Linked DNA regions of Homo sapiens: region 1 is linked to region 2. Evidence: fine-mapped expression QTL. A gene starts in region 2. The other region holds a variant in brackets. All regions are shown on one strand. Distances are from middle to middle.

Region 1 (2,915 bases), 41 kb before region 2:
AGTAACACAACTGCCACTTCCTCAGTGTTGCTTTTGTTCTTAACATTCCCTAGGGAAGATGACCTCCTTTCCAACTTCTTACATTATATCCCCATCTAGTTTTTGTCCTCTGTAGAGATATTCATCTTGCCATCATTATATAAAGTATATTTAAATATTTTCACATATTTTTTGTCTCACTTCTTTATTTCCCCTCATAAGACCAAATTCACTCTCTTCACATTTTCCCAAAACTATTAGCTCTTGGCTCAACTCCAGGAAATCTTTGCATGCCTCTGACTGATTCCATTGGAAATCCTTGCATGATTGCAGAGTGGGAAGGAGAGGGCTGCTGTGGAGTTCTGCTTACTAGTTTCCCCATGATTCTTTGCTGCCTGGTGTTCGCTGGCTCATATTCTACCTGGAGAAGCTCTGTTACTCTAAAGGAAGTTAGTGTAGTCAGGTGCTGTGGAATGTCCCAGCTACTTGGGAGGCTGAGGCAGGAAGATCATGAGTTTGTGCCCAGCCTGGGCGAAATAGTAAGACCTCTGTCTCAGAAAAAAAAAAAAAAAAGAATATATATAAATTTTTTTTTAAATAAAGGAAATTAGTGTTGTCTTTTCCTGTGAGGGTCTGTCATAGTCCTCACGGAAGTCTTTTGGGGTGTGGTGTTTTGTTTGTGGGGTAATCTGGAAGCCTGAGGGGCCCAGCTGCACCAACAGAAAAACAAGTTAGCCTCATAAGGTGAGGCAGGTGAGGCAGGTGAGGCAGGTGAGGCAAGGTTTAAAGTGAGTGGGGCCAATTATACATGTTCATGGTCTTTTATTTATAATTCTGATATTTTGTTTATCGTGAATTTTTGGCATGAATTTTGAGTTTAAAAAATAATGCATTATAATATTATTTATCTTGATTATGAAGTTTTTAAGCATCCCTTTCAATTTTGTACCCAAGAGAAATGTGTCACTTGCCTAGCCCTTGTCTGTCCCCTTCTTGTGGCTCTGTCTCAGGGGCAAGCCCAGCTTCATGGGCATGAGGTCTGTGCAGCTGTACAGGGCCCCTGCTTTGTTTAGTGCTCTGCTATCTTGAAATTCTTGGTAATTTTTGAACAAGGGCCCCTGGATTTTCATTTTGCACTGGGCCTGGCAAATTATCTAGCTGGTCCTGACCAGCGGAGTAAATTTAATATAGAACGAAGAATCAAGCTGTGTGTTTTCTTTCCTCTTCGGGGAAAATTTCAGTTGCAGCTCTCACTCTACAGCTTTCCTGGTTTATTTTGTCATTCATTTCATGTAAACAGACAACAACGGGGCTCTGTCCTCACAGCCTTTCCTGGGGTTGCCTCTGTTAGAAACAATGTTGGGCTTTTCAGCTACTTGTGGAGAGAAAATGCTCACTGCTTCTCTTTGGAACTCTTTCTA[G/A]GAGACGGGTTTGGCTCTGTGATTCATCAGAAATAAGAAAAACAAACACTGTAAATGGAGAACTTGAAAAAGAGGTGGGCACCATCTCCCCACCCAAGAGAATGGATTTAAGAGGAAATTTGTTTATGGGATGAAGTTTTAAAAGGCGACCTGGAAAATTTAGCAAAGATGTAAATAAACAACTCTTCCTTGGATTGCATTAGGCTTCAGAATAAATATATTAACCAGCTTCAGTCAAAGTCTGCCTAGAATCTGACCCTGACAAGACCCAGTGACTAGTGCTGCTCCGAACCTTCCCCACCAACAGCAGGCAATTTTCTCTGTGGCAAAGCTACCTCGAAACAGGCATCCAGGCTTCCCTCCCACGAAGTGAAGGTAAGCAGAGGCCTATCATGTTTCCTCTGAGTGCTGGCTGCAGGACGCCCCCCCACCCCGCCCCGAAAGCCCGAGGGCAGTCTGGAGACACCAGCTTGTTTTTATATGGTAGAGTCATCCATAGCTAGATACAAACACACATCTATTACCCACCAGGGGTACTGAATTGCTGTGTTGGCTGCAGAAACAGCCCAGGTCTGTGGGCAATTCCCATTATGTGTAGACACAAGCAGAAGCATTTAACCCAGGCCACTAAGGAATGTGCCAGGTCCCAGCAGGCAAGCTAGGGCTGGTGGAAGGAAAAGGGATGCGCTCCATAGGCCCTCCTCCTGGGTTGCCAGTATCCCTACTAGGGAAGGGAGTTTGGATTTTCCCTGCCCTCACATCTTCCTCTTCCTTTGTCTCCATCCTGTATCCAGACTCCTTTAGGAGAATTTATGAAGCATGTCCACAGTAAGATTCAAATTATTATTTCACAAATTTAAATACCTTACTACAGACCACACAGAAAACACATAGCCTATGCAAAGCAATTAAACTATTACTAAAAGAAGGTTGAGTAGAGCCTTTCATAGTACTTGGAAGGAATTTTAAGACTTTTTTTTTTTTTTTAAATCTCACCTTCCCCCATCTTTGGCAGACTAAACCAATCACATTCAAAATCATTCTTAATTTTTCCAAAAATAGCGCTAAATCACATACAAGCTACTGTGTACTGGGGCAGGCAATGTTCATTCCATAATAAAAGAACTACAATATTATTTGGAGGGGGAACAGGAATTAAATGAAATTCCTGCTTAGGGGAAGCATTATGCCAGATGCTTTATAAATGTTACACTACTTAAATCCCGCAAAAATTCTACAAAATGGGCATTATTATTCCTATTTTATAGATGAGAAAACTGAGTCTCAGAATGGACAAGCTCACAGATGGCAAGTGGTAGAGCAGACTTCACACATAGGTCTGTATGACTTTTTAAAGTTTATATTCTTTCTCTTGAAAAAATACCTCTTTTTAAAAGTATTATTCCTCTGTTTAGTTTTAGATTGTTATGAAAAAAAAAGGACCTTTTACAGATCGACTCTTTTATCCTACAATAGGGGCTCTGAACCATTTTGTGTAGGTTCAAATAGAGCTAG
Region 2 (2,915 bases):
GGTCCTATACAATTTATCCAAAGCTTGGGCAGCCCGAGAGCCCTTTTATCCCTCACTAGTGAATCAGTTCTATTGTAGGAGAGAGACATTCTTTCCTCCCCTTTTCGCTTAAAAAACATAACAAACCTGAATAGACTCCAGGCTAGAGTAGTGGAGAGAGTGATTTTTATTAGATCTAACATAGTTATTGGCAAATGCCTAAAGACAATATTTAAAAAGAGAGCTAGAGAAAGAAAAGGCTTTCACTTTATGCCTTAAAGGACAGATTGGTTACAATTTAACATCTAAGAGGAAAAATTTATAGAATTAAATGGCCTAACATTCCTCTTTCTTCAACATACATATGAGAAATCTAAGCTAAGAGGACATCTGGAATGGAACGTTATTCAGCAATCAGAAAGCAAAAATTCAAACCATTGATGTTTTGATGGAGACAAACACAACTAGATTCACAAAGAGGAAAGCTGCAACCTATTGAAGTTAAAAAAAATTCCATATGCATTTTACCTTTTGGGCAGTTCTATTTCAGAAGCCCTTTGTAATATGAAACCCACTGTAGATAAGATACAACATGAAGATAGTCTGTTTTGCAGCAGCAGGAAATCAAATTGGTTCCAGAAACGAAGTTATATGACAAATGGTTTAATAGTATTGCTAGAATTGGAAATCTTGATTGAATTATTTTTAAATCATTAAAAAAAAGATTTTGAAATAACTTTGCCATGCTGTATAAATTGGTGATGGTGGTAGGGGGTCCACACAGGGAGTGTTGCTGAGGTTAGGAGGCATCTCATTTTATTGGCCTTTTAACTAAAGCATTATAATCTGTTATCAAAATTTAAAAGTTCAGTGGTGATTTACTGTTAATTCTGGTTTGCAACAAATATTTTCAGACAAACACGATACTTGAATTAACATAGCTAATATGTGTTGTGGAGTATTAAACAGGTTAACAAATATTGATATATTCTAGTATCATTTCCAAATTATTTTTAGGTTTAATCTCAACACCAGTCAGCTTTGCTTTACTTAAAAAGCATCAGAAAAAGTTCATTAAGTCTTAGGCAGGTCTTGGATTGTAGAAGAGACTTCTAAGTAGTTAGCAAGATGTATCACTGACAGAATAACCCAGTGCCTAATGCCTGTAGGTGAAATGAAATCGTTCTTCTGGCTGAAGTCAGGAACAAGTTAAAATATCACTTAGAACACAGCATACGACTGCAGAGATTTAGGAGAAATCTTACTTAAATAGGATGTGACTTGACGTTTAGGACTATTTTCTAAAAAGTCAAAAAACTTTTCCCCCTTCAGTACTTACAGTCTTTGAAGACTAGAGCCGGATCTCTGTGAGGCAAGACTTGGGCAATGATGTGTCTCAGAGATTCCAAGGTTCTGTCCATCTTGGGTCTGCCTGTGTGAGCCTCCTGTACAGAGTGTCCTCATGCCTGAATTCTTGCAGTCCTGGGCTGAATTTCTGCAGCTCATTGATGCACTGGATTACCAAGGAATCCCTTTTAACATCTGCCAATCAGACATTTCCCAGAATCTAAAGACCCCTCAGGGGGCCCTCTTCCCAGGCTCACTTATCTTTGTTGTATGCTGAGCTAATTAGCTCGAAAGGCTGGCTGACAGGCGGGTTCCCATTGCTTTCTTCTGTTAAACACACCCACCTACAGGCTAGCTGGGGAAGCTCGCTAAATTATGAAAACAGCTTTCCTCTCCAACCAGATTTTGTCTGAATGCTGTGCAGCTTTCTGACTTGAGTATTTCTTCTGGCCCTCCATCTTCAATTGTGTTGCCCCCAGGAATATGGAATCAGGAAGGTTATTTCTCCAGGAAATTTCCTGAATGACAAGACAGCTTCCAGCTCAGGACTGCCAGCTATATGTTAACAGTATAATCCCTATAAATCTAAATTTTCAGTGTAATTCTTCTTTGGTAAAGGAGTGCTATAAAGATTATGGGGCTGGGTGCAGTTTATCATGCCTGTAATTCCAGCACTTTGGGAGGCTGAGGCGGGCAGATCGCTTGAGCCCAAGAGTTCCAGACCAGCCTGGGCAACATGGCGAAACCCTAACTCTACAAAAAATACAAAAATTAGCTGGGTGTGGTGGTGCATGCCTGTGATCCCAGCTACTTGGAGGGCTAAGGCAGGAGGATGGTTTGAGCCTGGAAAGTCGAGGCTGCAGTGAGCCCAGATTGTGCCACTGCACTCCAGCCTTGGTGACAAAGTAAGACCCTGTCTCAATTTTTTAAAAAAATCTTTCAATAACTACCTTAAGAAACATATATGTATTTTCTCGTCCTGTTTCTTTGTTTTATTTTTCTTTTTAATAGGGTCTCATACTGTCCTCCAGGCTGGAGTGCAGTGGCGTGATCATAACTCACCGCAGCCTTGACTCAAGTGAGGGGCTTGAGCCCTGGACTCAAGCAATCTTCCCATCTCAGCACCCCAAGTAGTTGGGAGGCACACGCCACCACGCCTGGCTAATTTTTAAATTTTCTGTAGAGATGGGGTCTCACTGTGTTGCCCAGGCTGGTCTCAAACTCCTGGGCTCAAGCAATCATCCTGTCTGGGCCCCCAAAGTGCTGCGATTACAGGCGTGAGCCACTGCACCCTGCCCTGAAATTTTTAATAATTATTAAGTGAAAGGAAGTGAATTACATCAGAATTAATTAAAGTCAACCTTGGGAATGATTCACTTTGAAGGGTAAATAGGGAAACAAATGTTCCCAGGCAAGCTGTAAGACAGTCTGTCAGGTTTTACTTGCCCCTGCCCAATAGAAGTGACTAAAATTTGGGAGGGTTGTGGGGGGTAACAAGCCTTGGCTTCCAGAAGAGTGGCTCCTGAATTCAAATGCAAGGCTTAATTTAGTCCCTAGCTGTATCCTTTTTTTTTTTTTTTTTTGAGACA

Which allele goes with the higher level. Alleles are on the strand shown, and positions count from the first base shown. SD is a standard deviation of normalised expression in the study named.
As copies of G replace A in region 1, the expression in putamen of the gene that starts at base 1,435 in region 2 goes down (large effect, 1.0 SD a copy in GTEx).

What was found.
Region 1: its variant is fine-mapped to the expression of LIX1 in putamen (GTEx, PIP above 0.99). The same link has a PIP of 0.9 or more in anterior cingulate cortex, caudate, cerebellar hemisphere and prefrontal cortex.

What each region holds. Positions count from the first base shown.
Region 1 is chr5:97,100,358-97,103,272 of GRCh38, forward strand. The region is part of intron 4 of LIX1 (limb and CNS expressed 1); the gene reads right to left. It overlaps LIX1-AS1 (LIX1 and RIOK2 antisense RNA 1), which reads left to right. Exons shown (of 8, transcript NR_187470.1): 6 at 1,402-1,775; 7 at 2,669-2,737. Among named protein-coding and RNA genes, the nearest start is that of LIX1-AS1, 28 kb to the left of the region's middle. The variant G/A (reference allele first, on the strand shown) is at 1,401.
Region 2 is chr5:97,141,177-97,144,091 of GRCh38, forward strand. It overlaps LIX1 (limb and CNS expressed 1), which reads right to left and starts at 1,435. Exons shown (of 6, transcript NM_153234.5): 1 at 1,319-1,435. The coding sequence starts at 1,400. RefSeq lists an enhancer at 1,382-1,451.